Linked DNA regions of Homo sapiens. The protein of the gene in region 1 purifies or fractionates together with the protein of each later gene. This does not show direct contact. Each region holds a gene or a part of one and is shown in the gene's direction. Other genes may lie near its edges.

Evidence for each region.
Region 2: the proteins of ARMC10 (region 1) and FBXL16 purify together in Homo sapiens (co-immunoprecipitation; one large-scale study listed by IntAct). This does not show direct contact.
Region 3: the proteins of ARMC10 (region 1) and VSIG1 purify together in Homo sapiens (co-immunoprecipitation; one large-scale study listed by IntAct). This does not show direct contact.
Region 4: the proteins of ARMC10 (region 1) and PPP1R9A purify together in Homo sapiens (affinity purification with mass spectrometry; one large-scale study listed by BioGRID and IntAct). This does not show direct contact.

Annotation. Positions count from the first base shown.
Region 1 is NC_000007.14:103,095,638-103,099,142, forward strand, and holds part of ARMC10 (armadillo repeat-containing protein 10), read left to right. Parts: intron 1-1,639; coding exon 1,640-1,711; intron 1,712-2,661; coding exon 2,662-2,916; 3' UTR 2,917-3,505. UniProt on the Homo sapiens protein: May play a role in cell survival and cell growth. May suppress the transcriptional activity of p53/TP53.
Region 2 is NC_000016.10:695,800-699,304, reverse strand, and holds part of FBXL16 (F-box/LRR-repeat protein 16), read left to right. Parts: intron 1-1,885; 5' UTR 1,886-1,899; coding exon 1,900-2,532; intron 2,533-3,381; coding exon 3,382-3,505. UniProt on the Homo sapiens protein: Substrate-recognition component of the SCF (SKP1-CUL1-F-box protein)-type E3 ubiquitin ligase complex.
Region 3 is NC_000023.11:108,051,562-108,055,066, forward strand, and holds part of VSIG1 (V-set and immunoglobulin domain-containing protein 1 isoform 2 precursor), read left to right. Parts: intron 1-3,505.
Region 4 is NC_000007.14:95,271,091-95,274,595, forward strand, and holds part of PPP1R9A (neurabin-1), read left to right. Parts: intron 1-2,808; coding exon 2,809-2,896; intron 2,897-2,994; coding exon 2,995-3,078; intron 3,079-3,505. UniProt on the Homo sapiens protein: Binds to actin filaments (F-actin) and shows cross-linking activity. Binds along the sides of the F-actin. May be involved in neurite formation. Inhibits protein phosphatase 1-alpha activity.

The DNA of each region.
Region 1 (3,505 bases):
GTATGGTTTCACATGGCCTTTGTTTTTAAAAGACTTGGAACCAACCCGAATGTCCAACAATGATAGACTGGATTAAGAAAATGTGGCACATATACACCATGGAATACTATGCAGCCATAAAAAATGATGAGTTCATGTCCTTTGTAGGGACATGGACAAAATTGGAAATCATCATTCTCAGTAAACTATCGCAAGAACAAAAAACCAAACACTGTATATTCTCACTCATAGGTGGGAATTGAACAATGAGAACACATGGACACAGGAAGGGGAACATCACACTCTGGGGACTGTTGTGGGGTGGGGGGAGGGGGGAGGGATAGCATTGGGAGATATACCTAATGCTAGATGACGAGTTAGTGGGTGCAGTGCACCAGCATGGCACAAGTATACATATGTAACTAACCTGCACATTGTGCACATGTACCCTAAAACTTAAGAATAATAATTAATAAATTAAAAAGAGGCATTCTATTTGAGTCTTGTTATTACTGACTTTTCAGTTATAAGTGATAAGAATGCTGATATTTTAGCTAGTCACCCATTAGATAACATTTATTTGCTTATTATTTATATCATTGCTGGGCATGGTGGCTCATTGCCTGTAATCCTAGTTACTTTGGGAGGCCAAAGTGAGAGGATTGCTTGAGGCCAGGAGTTCAAGACCAGCTTCAGCAATATAGTGAGACCCCCATCTCAATCAATCAACCGATCTATCAGTTTTTATCACTGTGCTTATTTATATGATTGTAAAACACTTTCACATTAAAAGATAACCTCAAAAATTCATGGTAGCTTACCAAAAGGGGCCATATTGTTATTTATTTAGTCTTGGTAACCAAACAGTTCCAAAATTTTTACTGTTTAAGTAGAAATGAGCTGAGCTTTGAGAGATTTTTTTGTTGTTGTTTTAAAGATTATATTTCTTTATTTCTTTTTTGTCGGGGGTGAAGATGGGGTCTAAGGGTCTCACTATATTGCCCAGGCTGGAGTGCAGTGGCTGTTCACAGGCACAATCATAGCTTACTACATCCTTGAACTTGAACATCCTTGAGATGGGAAGGCTCAAGAGATCCTCCCCCGCTCAGCTTCCCAAGTACCTAGGACTACAGGCCGACACCATCATGCCTGGCCATACTTCACTTACCAGTAATCATAATGAAGATCGTGTATTTAACAGATGTTAAGCTTACCAACTGTTCAGATGTGCATGTGAATTGGGGGTAGATTGTGAAGACATTTGCAATATTCTATCTCCCTGACATTATAATTGGGAAAAATTAGGTTTAAATAACCGTGTGATAGAAAACCTGTATCTCTGTGATAAGTTCTCTAAGAGTGGTACAAGACATTTGCAATATTCTCTCTATCTCCCTAACGATGTAATTGGAAAAATGAGGTTTAAATAACACTGTTCTATGATAGGTTCTCTAAGAGTGCTGCCAAGTGTTATAAGAGTTCAGAATGAGACCTTTAAAGTAGAATGAACGGAGAAGGTTTCCTGGAGTAGAGAGAATTTGAGCCAGGCCTGGAAGCTTAGGCAGGACTTTAACAGGAAGACATGGTGAGAGAACAGCATGCCTGAGAGAGAAAATTCATGCTTGCCAGTCTGAGATAAGCCAGTATCATCTTCTTTCAGGTGCAAGTTTTGAAACTGCTTTTGAATTTGTCTGAAAATCCAGCCATGACAGAAGGACTTCTCCGTGCCCAAGTAAATAGCTTATATATTTATTTTGTAAATATACACATATATACATTTGAACAGACAGACAGATCTGGAAAGATTAAGCCTAAAATGTTAACAGGGATTCTCTCTGAGGAGCAGTATTAAAGGTGGTTTTTTAAATTCATTTTGTATGTGTAAATTTCCTAAATTTTTTGCAATGAGCCTCTTTTACTTTTGAAAAACATTTTTAAAAATTCACCCTAGCAACAATAAATTATAACTTTTTTCTCTACCCAATTTTGGGTACAATTGTGCCATCCCATATTTTATACTTGAACTGTTTGTGTTTACATGTATCTTAGTATCCACTGAAACAGCAGTACTGAGTCCCCAGCATATGCTAGATGAGACACACCAGTGAGCACAGCGTGACATGGTACATGTCCTCACGAAGCTTACAGTCTAGTGGAGAGACAAAAATATATAACAAGTGAACAAGGTAATTAAAAGCTGTGATAAGTGTTCTGAATGCTGGGATAGAATGGAGCTCCACTCCTGTAGAAGAGGAACCATCGTATTCATCTGCTCATCCCTATTCCCCACCCAGCTCTGTGCCCTGTGGTGTATGGGCACTAAATGTTTGATGAAAAAATGAGTTCCCATGAAAACCGTATGATGATCTTAAAAAAGAAAATGGTTGTTTTTCCCAAATAACCACATTCTAAAATTCCAAGGAAATTGTATTTTTCCAGCTGAAACACTCCCTTTTTTCCATTAGTATTACAGCGTGGGGGTACATAAGGTTTTATACATCTAAGTTATGAAATTTTGGGTTTTCTGTGACAAAATTTTTTTAATGTGAGATACATTTTAAATGTGAATTTAAAAATTTTAAAATGTGAGTTATTCAATGTAGTTTTAAAATGTTAAAATATACATGAAAAAGTTTTCATATATTATTAATATAAAATAATACTCATTGTTTCATATTTCAGGTGGATTCATCATTCCTTTCCCTTTATGACAGCCACGTAGCAAAGGAGATTCTTCTTCGAGTACTTACGCTATTTCAGAATATAAAGAACTGCCTCAAAATAGAAGGCCATTTAGCTGTGCAGCCTACTTTCACTGAAGGTTCATTGTTTTTCCTGTTACATGGAGAAGAATGTGCCCAGAAAATAAGAGCTTTAGTTGATCACCATGATGCAGAGGTGAAGGAAAAGGTTGTAACAATAATACCCAAAATCTGATTGGTCATATTTTTCCAAAGAGTAATGCAGTCTGGATATAAACGTATTTTCTGTCTTCCTTATAAGGGGATTCTCCCAGCTGCTAAATTTAAACAGTAAATATCACATTTTGTCATTAACACAGCTATAACTTGCCGTGGTTCTCAGATTTATTTTGGACTATTTTGATGCCAAGTGAATATAAGAGCTTGTACTGAAACCATTTATTTCTTTCTATTTTGCTATTTGCAAATGCTTGTTATCTTCCCTACATGAAGTGGCAGTAACCTTTTTCACATTTAAGCTACCCTTCTACCTTTTGAAGTGATTTGCAGTTACTCATCTGAGACAGCATCAGTATTTGACTAAATCATTGTTTCACAACTGAATAGTCTTGTTCTTTTAGTAGCAACGAAATCCTAAGCTCTTGAGGCCATTCACCTGCCAACCTGACCATACTGCTTTCAAAAGTCTTTTCTCATCAGTAGAATCTATTTTGGTCACTTCTAGTCAATGAAAAATGTAAACTTTTAGGAGAGAATGTTTCTTAGGACTCACCCACTCCATTCAATGTTATATATAAAATAGTGTGATCAATCACAATGTCCAT
Region 2 (3,505 bases), on another chromosome or scaffold:
ACTTACAGACTGGAGGCCTGAGGAGGGTGCCCGGGACTGCTCCCACTCCACCCTGTGCGTGGATGTCGCTGGCCTGAAGATAACCTCCGCATGGCCTTCCTCAGCCAGCTCTGCCCGAACTTTGGCTTCACCACTTATCTGGCCATGACCTCGGGCAGGCAGTTTGCCCAGCCTTGGCCTCAGTTTCCTCATCTGTGCAGTGGGTACAGCTATCACAGCATCGTTCTCATTGGGCAGAAGATTAAAGCGACAGCTTGTGTCCAGGGCTAACCATGCTGGCACCACAGCACACCCTGGGAAGATGCCCGCCCTTTCTTTGCATGGATTCTTTTTTCTTTTTCTTTTCTTTTTTTCTTTTTCTTTCTTTCTTTCTTTTTTTTTTTTTTTTTTTGAGACAAAGTCTCACTCTGTTCCCCAGGCTGGAGTACAGTGGTGTGATCTCGGCTCGCTGCAACCTCCGCCTCCTGGATTCAAGTGATTCTCCTGCCTCAGCCTCCCAAGTAGCTGGGATTACAGGAGCCTGCCACCAAGCCCGGCTAATTTTTGTATTTTTAGTAGAGAAGGGGTTTCACCATGTTGGCCAGGTGGTCTCAAACCCCTGACCTTGTAATCCACCCACCTCAGCCTCCCAAAGTGCTAGAATTACAGGCATCAGCCACTGCACCCAGCCCCTTGGGTAGATTCTGAGCCAGGGAAGCTCCTGTGCATGTGGAGGGTGGCTGCAGAGTCAGCACCAGAGCCCCTCCTGAGCGCTGTGCAGTCACCCTGCAGGGGAGGGGCCAGAGGCCACCCCAGACCCTTCCCTTCAGTTCCCCTGGCCTGCCCAGAGGGGTGGGCCTGGTGGGTACCTACAGTGGACGGCACAGCAGAGAGGTCAAGAGAGCAGTCCTGGCCTCACCAGGTCCACCTCCATTTTCTTCTCTGTAAAATGGCCATCATGGTACCTAAGTGCTAAAAAGTGTCGGCGTTTCTTCGCCTCACTGGGCAAACAAAAAGGTTTCCGGTCAGGCACGGTGGCTCATTCCCATAATCCCAGGACTTTGGGAGGCTGAGGCGGGTGGATCACTTGAGGTCAGGAGTTTGAGACCAGCCTGACCAACATGGAGAAACCCCATCTCTACTAAAAATACAAAATTAGCCGGGTGTGGTGGTGGGCGCCCGAATTCCCAGCTACACGGGAGGCTGAGGCAGGAGAATCACTTGAACCTACGAGGCAGAGAGGTTGCGGGGAGCCAAGATCCTGTCTCTGCACTCCAGTCTGCGCTCCAGGCAACAAGAGTGAAACTGTTTCTTTTTTTTTTTTTTGAGACAGAGTCTTGCTCAGTTGCCCAGGCTGGAGTGCAGTGGCGCAATCTCGGCTCACTGCAAGCTCCGCCTCCCGGGTTCACGTCATTCTCCTGCTGCAGCCTCCCAAGTAGCTGGTACTACAGGCGCCTGCCACCATGCCCAGCTAATTTTTTGTATTTTTAGAAGAGATGGTGTTTCACTGTGTTAGCCAGGATGGTCTCGATCTCCTGACCTCATGATCCACCCGCCTCGGCCTCCCAAAGTGCTGGGATTACAGGCATGAGCCACCGCGCCCGGCCGGAACTCTGTTTCAAAAAGAAAAAAAACAAAAGAAAAAGAGGGTGTCCATGGGCAATGAAGGTTGGGCTCAGTGCATACCGTAGGTGCCCAGTGAGTGCTGCCAGTGGCCATGGTTGGCTTCCTGTTGCTGCTCACAGTCTGGGAGGGAGAAGCAGGCACTCCCATCCTCTCTGTCTGGTGGTTCTGGGAGCACCATAGGGACGCCCAAGGAGGGAAGGAGCCCCACTGCACCCGCCCCCAACCCCGGCCTTCCAGACTCAGCAACAGACTCACTCCCCCTCCCGGCCCTCATCCACAGAGCGTGCCAGGAAGATGTCGAGCCCGGGCATCGACGGCGACCCCAAGCCTCCATGCTTGCCTCGAAACGGTCTGGTGAAGCTGCCGGGCCAGCCCAACGGCCTGGGTGCGGCCAGCATCACCAAGGGCACGCCAGCCACCAAGAACCGCCCCTGCCAGCCACCACCCCCACCCACCCTCCCACCACCCAGCCTGGCTGCTCCACTGTCCCGGGCTGCCCTGGCTGGGGGCCCGTGCACCCCGGCAGGTGGACCAGCCTCAGCCTTGGCACCTGGGCACCCAGCGGAGCGGCCGCCGCTGGCCACGGACGAGAAGATCCTCAATGGGCTCTTCTGGTATTTCTCGGCCTGCGAGAAGTGTGTGCTGGCCCAGGTGTGCAAGGCCTGGCGGCGCGTGCTGTACCAGCCCAAGTTCTGGGCAGGCCTCACGCCGGTGCTGCATGCCAAGGAGCTCTACAACGTGCTGCCTGGTGGCGAGAAGGAGTTCGTGAACCTGCAGGGTTTTGCCGCCAGAGGCTTCGAGGGCTTCTGCCTGGTTGGCGTCTCCGACCTGGACATCTGTGAGTTCATTGACAACTATGCGCTCTCCAAGAAGGGTGTCAAAGCCATGAGCCTCAAGCGCTCCACCATCACGGACGCAGGCCTCGAGGTGTGCACCAGGCTCGGGGGGGACAGGGCTGGGGGGCAGGGGCGGGCAGCAGCAACCCTATGGAGGTGGGAGCGGATGGTGGCTTTGGGGTGGGAGGAAAGAAGGACTGACTACAGGGGACCTCGCGCAAAGCGAAAATGTGGGTCCCTTGTTCAAAGACACTCAAGATTTTCAAGATGGCAGCAGCAGGGCAGTGGATTAAATGCAGGGCCCAGGCCCGGTGGCTCAAGCCTGTCATCCCGGCACTATGGGAGGCCGAGGCAGGCCACTCACTTGAGGTTAGGCGTTCATGACCAGCCTGGTCAACATGGTGAAACTCTATTTCTATTAAAAATGCAGAAATTAGCCAGGCCTGGTGGTGGGCACCTGTAGTCCCAGCTACTTGGGAGGACACTGAGGCAGGAGAATCGCTTGAACCCGGGAGGCGGGGGGTACAGTGAGCTGAGATCATGCCACTGCACTCCAGCCTGGGACCTGGGCAACAGAGTAAGGCTCTGTCTCAAAATGATTGAATGAATGAATGAATAAATAAATAAATAAATAAATACAAATGCAGTGTGGGGAGGATGCGAGGGGGAGCTGAGGGGCAGCTGGGAAAGGATCCCCCAGGAGTAGAGGTCAGAGGAGCCGCCTGGCAGCCGGGTCTGGAGTCTAATTGTAACGCTGGTGCCAACGCCCCCAGCACCTGCCCTGGCCAGGCCCTGGGCTCTCGTCCCGATGCCCCGCCTCCTCACACACTGCCAAATGTTTTCAGGGTTCAGCTCCCTGCATGTTTACACCCTACTGCTTCCTCCCTGCGGGCTCCACCCCTTCTCCTGCAATCCTGACCCGGCGCCCGCCCGCCTGCAGGTTATGCTTGAACAGATGCAGGGCGTGGTGCGTCTGGAGCTGTCGGGCTGCAACGACTTCACCGAGGCCGGGCTGTGGTCCAGCCTGAGCGCGCGCATCACCTCGCTGAGCGTGAGTGACTGCA
Region 3 (3,505 bases), on another chromosome or scaffold:
CCTAACATAGTAGACAAAATGTTCAATCAAAAATCATCTGTCATACCAAGAATCAAGTAAATCACAACTTGACTGAGAAAAGGCAACTACTGCCAACATTAAGATGAGTTCGATGTTGGAATTATCTGACAAGGATTTCAAAGTAGCCATCATAAAAATGCCTCAACAATCAATTAACATTATCTTAAAACAAATAAAGAAAAAAAAGGAAACTTGCAGAAAAGAAAAAGAAGTTATAAAAATATAAGAAAGAAGGAAATTCTGTCATTTGCTACAGCATGAATGAACCTGGGGGACATTATGCTAAGTGAAGCAAGCCAGACACAGAAAGACAAACACCACATAATCTCACTTATATGTGAGATCTAAAAGAGTTGAACTCAGAATTAGAGTAGAATGGTTACCAGGGACTGTGGCTTGGAGGGAGTGGGAAATGGGGAGAAGTTGACCAAAGGGTACAAAGTTCCAGTTAGACAAGAGGAATAAGTTTTTAAGACCTATTTTGCAGCATGCTCACCATAGTTGATAATAATGTATGTGCATTTCAAAACTGCTAAAAGCATAAGATTTTAGTCTACACATTGGGTACAGTGTACACTGTTCGGGTAATGGGGGCACCAAAATCTCAGAAATCACCACTAATGAACTTATCCACGTAACCAAACATCACCTGTTCCCCAAAAAAGTATTCAAAAAAATAATAGATTTTAAATGTTCCTGCTATGAAAAAAACAAAACGAAACAAAAGATAGGTAGGCCAGATGTGGTGGCTCATGCCTGTAATCCCGCCACTTTGGGAGGCCAAGGAAGGTGGATCACTTGAGCTCAGGATTTCGAGAAGAGCCTGGGCCACGTGGTGAAACCCTATTTCTACCAAAAATACACACACACACACACACACAAAATTAGCTGGGCATGGTGGCATGTGCCTGTGGTCCTAGCTACTCGGGATGCTGAGATGGGAGAATTGCTTAAGCCTGGGAGGCAGAGGTTGCCGTGAGCCGAGATCACACTACTGCACTCCAACCTGGGTGACAGAGTGAGACCCTGTCTGAAAACAAAACAAAACAGAACAAAAAACAAAAAAAAGGATAAATTACGTGAGGTGATGGATATGTTAATTAGCTCGATGTAATTATTCCACAGTGTATGCATATATTAAAATATCACATTGTATCCCATAAATATATGCAATAATTATTTGTTAATTAATTAAAATAAAAATTAAGTTAAAAACAAGAATTTAAAAAATACATACTTTGCAATTATCTACTATTTTTCTAAAGACCCTTACAATCTATAGGCTCTTTCTCAGTTTTCTTTTTTCCCCCTTGGAATTATTTTTTGAATAAAACTGGCTTGTTTGTCCCCTCCCCCCAAAAAACAAATATAAATTATAGAACTGTAAAATAAAATAACAAAAATGAAAAACTGGCTGATGGACTCAATAGAAGAGCAGAGATGACAGAAAATAGAATCCATATCTGGTGAAACTATCCTTCAGGAATTAAGGGGAAATAATTAAATTCTCAGTTGAAGGAAAACAAAAAGATTTGTTGCTAGCAGACATACTGTTAAAAAATAGCTAAAGGGATTTCTTCAAACAGAGAATAAATGATAAAGAGCAATCAGGAAGGATGAAAGGACAACAGAAAGAGCAGAAATGTAAGTACATAAAGTAGACTATCTTTTAACTCATGAGTTCTATAAATCATATTTGATAATTGAAGCAAAATTATAACACCATTTTATACTCTAGACAATGATATTTAAAAGTGGGGAAGGTAAAGGAAACTAAATGGAAGTGAGGTTTATACACTTCAATCAAAGTGGTAAAATATTGATATGAGTAGACTGTTATGACTCACACATGAATGTTGAATACCCAGAGAAACCACTGGGAAAACTCTACAAAGATATATATTTTAAAACACTATGAATAAGTCAAGATGGAATCATAAAAAATGCTCAAGTAACTATCAGAAAAGCAAGAAAAGGGAAACAGAAGAATAAGAACTAAAGGGAACAAACAAAAAACAAATAATAAAATAGCAAACAAGAATAATATATCAATAATTACATTAAATAATTATATTGAATGCGAATACCACTACAGTAGTCCCCTTTTATCTGTGGTTTTACTTTCTGAGGTTTCAGTTACCCATAGTACAGTATAATAAGATATTTTGTGAGAAAGAGTGTGAGTGTGTGAACACAATCACATAATTTTTACTCCAGTACATTGGTATAATTGTTCTATTTATTAGTAGTTATCATTGTTAATCTCTTACTGTGCCTAATTTATAAATTAAACTTTATCATAGGTTTGTGTGTATGGGGGAAAAATATATATAGTATACATAGAGTTCAGTACTATCCATGGTTTCAGGCATCCACTGGGGGTCTTGGAATATATCTCCCTGGAATAAGGGGGAACTACTCTATATGCTATTCACAAGAAACTCACATTAAATTTGATGACATAGGAAGATTGCAAGTAAAAATATAGAAAAAGATGTACCACATAAGTATTAATTTTTCAAAAATCTGGAGAAGCTTCATTAATATCTGATAAAATAGTCTTCAGAGCAAAGAAAGTTAAAAGAGATAAACAGAGACATTACCTAATGATAAATGGATCAATCCAGCAGGAGGATACAATGATCCTTAATGGGTACACACCAAACAACTATGTCTCAAAATTCATGAACAAAAACTGATCAAGCTAAAAGAAGAAAGAGACAAATCCACAATTATAGTTGGGAAATTCAATACCCCCTCTCAGAAATTGATAAATCTACTAGACAGAACATCAGTAAATATAGGGAAGATCTGAAAAAGACAGTCAATTAACAGGATCCAGTTGAATATTTTTACGATTTTATATTGGTTTTTCCATAGTGGTTTTAAATTATATCTCTTTGTATAGAAAACTCCACCCAACAACAGCAGAACACACTTTTTTTTGGCACCTACAGAACATTCACCAAGATAGATAATGTGCTTGGCCGTAAAACAAACCTAAACAAATTTAAAATAATTGAAATCATACAGAGTATATTCTCTGACTACAATGCAATGAAACTAGAAATCTGTAGCAGAAAAGTATCTAAACACGTGGAAATTAAACAACACTGTTCTAAATAATCCGTGGATCAAAGAGGAAATCTCAAAAGGAATTTTTTTAAAAATGCGTAGAACTGAATGCAAATGAAAACACAACATATTGAAATATGTACCATGTAGATAAAGCAATTCTGAGAGAGAAATTTCTAACACTAAATGTTTACATTGGAAATAAAGGAAGGTCTTAAGTCAATAACCTAAATTTCTACATCAAGGATCTAGAAAAGAAGACCAAAATAAACCCAAAGCAAGCAGAAGGAAGGGAATAATAAAGAGCTGAAATCAATGAATTTGAAATAGAAAAACTATAGGGAAAAATTAATAACACAAAAATTTGCTTTTCTGAAAAAAAAATCAGTAAAACTGACAAACTTCTAGC
Region 4 (3,505 bases), 7.8 Mb from region 1:
AGACAGGCACATATCATATGATTTAAAGGTACAAGGCTATCCCAGCCTGGCTGTAGCAGTTTGCTTATGCAGGGTGGAGTAGTTACACACAAAAGTGAGCCAGTAGGTTAAGTATATAGCTTTAGAAGTTAAACATCTTAGATAACTTGCCATATTACTAGGAAACCACAAGAAGTTTGACCAGAGGAATAAAAAGGAAAAGACACCACCAGGTATGGAGAAGCTGAGTTAGGAGACCCTATGAGGTGGTGCCCTCTAAAGAGGAGCAGTAGACAGTGACAGGAAAGAATGATTCAAGGACCCTTGAGACATACCTTGACTAGGTAACAGGTAAGAAAGTGAGGCAAAACTATCATGGGCTTCACGCCTCAGAACATATGGTCTTGTCATTAACAGAAAATAGGAAATCAGCAACATGATGGGGGAAATAGGATTAACTCATTTTTTTAACAGAGGAGGTCATGAGCGCAAGAGAGAGGTCAGGACTGCCAGGTAGATTTGGGAGTCCCCATTATAAAGGAAGAGATAGTCAAGTATCTTATTACAGTGAGATTAAGGAGATGCAGTCCAGTACAAGACCTTAGGATTTGGCCATCAGGAGATCATTTATTATTTGAAAATGAAAACCAGGTTGCCACAGCTTAAAGTTGAGGCACCCAATCTGGGGGCTCAGATGTATAATTGGTCACAAAGGTAGTATTGGAGAGATTTTAAAAAGCCTAACAGAAGTCTTACGTAGAGCTAAATAAACAAAATGTATGTTTCTTTTTTCCTGAAATCATACCAATCTAATGTTGGATTTTATGCAGACTAGAAGTTCTAGTGTGCATTAAAGATGGATTTAATCGATTTTAAATGGGAAAGTACATTATTCCTTATTCTTAACATCTTCAGCCCTATGGAAGCATTCATTTCAGTGTTCCTGGGAACGCACTTTGGCAAATGTGTGAGATAAAGATGTAAGGTTGCCTAGCACCAAGCTCTGTGATAGGCAGAATCAGGCTTTTAGTCGCATGATGTCCAAATAACTGCAACACTCATGGGTTACAGAGTGTTTTCGTGTACATTGCCTCAGCTGGTCTTCTCAGCGCTCATTGTAACATCTCCCAGCTACCTCTCATTCAGGAAATAATTAGGCAGTCTCCTTTTAACTTTGCATAGTCCTAGCCATTAAGAGTTGCTTTAGGATTGATCTGGAAGAATTTGGCACTTTCTTTTCTTCAGCTTCTATTAAGAAAATTTAAATCTTGCTTTTAAAAATAAAATCCATTAGTAAAATCACCTTAGAAGGTGTTTGTGCCATGTCTATGTCTATGGATTTTTTTATATGATTGTGTCACATCTGTGACAATTCAGTTACCCAAAGAGTAATGATGCAAATATGCATAATAAATATTTGAGGCTTGAAGTGGATTTTTGACACAGACATATTTCTGACTCTTGTGTTTCATTATGTACATTTCAGTGAGTTGCTTATTGTAATCTAAGTATCATTAACTAAAAATATGAAAAGCTCATTGCTAAAAACATTTGGAGTATTTGTCAGTGTCCTGTGCTGCTTGAGAGCTTTGAACCTAGACTGCTATCCATGAACTGTGTGTGTACTTCATGTTTTTTAAAGGTGTATGTCGATGTGTGTTGAGAAATTTCTCTTGAAGTAAACAAAAATCATGAGCAACATTAACCTGCAAAGTTAATTGAACACTTTTTTAAGAGGGCCATTCTCTTTGCCTTCCATACTAGAAAGTTCCTAGAAATTTAAAACACATTTTAAAAGATAAGAGACAGAAAAACAGATACCAAAAAAGAACTGGGGAGGAAGAGTTTCACACATAAAAAACATCAAATTTAAAACAGCATTTGTTAATCATCTGAGCTAATTGGATATGCTGAAACGTGATGCCGATCAGTACCCTCTGCTGAATAGTTTGGGTAGAGCCTGTCCGAGATGGAACAAGTGCCACCAGTGGAATTGGTTCCCACCTTGACATTGAACTCCATTTGCAAAGCCTGTCTTCCTATTGGCTTTTGGTATCATTTCGAGGGTCCCCATTCCCCAGCAGCTGCTACCTTTGAGAGTCCTAGAGGCAAAGATCAGTCTGCTCTGAACACTGAGGAGATTTTGGCATCTTCCACATTAAGGGGAACCAGCCAAGTTTTGCTGTAACCTAACTATTAAGAAGGCCCTTTCAAAGATATAAATGTTTTGTAGCTGAGCCCCTGTTTAAGGAGTCTCCCCCATGTCCTCCCCTCCTCTGTTCCAGGACCGGCCACAGGCCATTAGCAAAGGAGAGCCAGAGAAGAAAACTTTGACTCTGACTTTCCCCCTAAATCTCCCAGACTCTCAGAGGTGATATTCTGCGCTGGGCTTTGGAGATACGGGAGAAGTGGGCTATGTTCCTGTTAGAAGGCACTACAACCCCAAGGCAAGAAAGGAATGGAGGACAGAGCCCAGGCACTTGAAGCCAAGAATTTGGAGCCAGAGAAGGAACAAAAGTCATGTTGGTCCCTACTTCGAATGCAGAGGATGATTTGAGAGTATTTATTCTCCCTTGTTCATTCCCATGCAGTTGAAGCTAAAACTCTTTGTGATGAATGTTGAGCCTCTGTCCTATAGAGGACCTCCCCTGCTTAACTGCGAGTTCCTCAATGTAACTGTGTCTCCTAGGTCGTATAAGAAGGCATTGATTATTTATTTTACAATTAGGAATTTAGGCAAAGCCCTTAGATTCAGAGATGCATTGACTTTTGAATTGTGACTTTAAAAATAATAATAATTGATCTTTTTCACAAATGTGTATATCCTAGATGATGCCAAAGATCCCAAATCACTAAGGGCATCCAGTTCATTGGCGGTGCAAGGAGGAAAAATTAAGCGGAAGTTTGTGGATCTGGGGTAAGCACTTCACGATGTAAAAAGAAAGCCCTCTGTAAAAGGAGGATTGAAAGAGAAAATTTCAGCTTCCCCTTTCTGACTGCTTACTATCATTACAGGGCGCCTTTGCGAAGGAATTCCAGCAAGGGAAAGAAGTGGAAAGAAAAAGAAAAAGAAGCCAGTAGGTTTTCTGCAGGTAGCAGGTACGGTTGTGTGATTAAGAACACGTGTATTTCTATACCTAAACTTTCTGGCCCCCTCTTCTATTGTTAACCAAAATCAGTGGTCAGTATCTTTGAGCTAAAGTGATATGCCAAGAATTGAGATGGAAGAAAAATTGCACAATTAGTTTATATTGGTCTTACTCCAATTATAGCCTCCATCTAGCCTTGGGCATATCCATTGGTTCTTAATTGCAGAATTATGGCCACATGAACCATTTCAATAAGTGTTTATCTAAATTCAGCACAAATATATCTATGTGATACTTCAGAAATATCAAATATATTTATGTGATACTTCAGATTTTTTGCCTGGCTACCCACAATGCTAGTGCATTGTATTAAGTCTAAAAGGATAATCATTTTGCATTTAAGTACCTTGTTGACATTCAAGATTGTCTTGTCCACA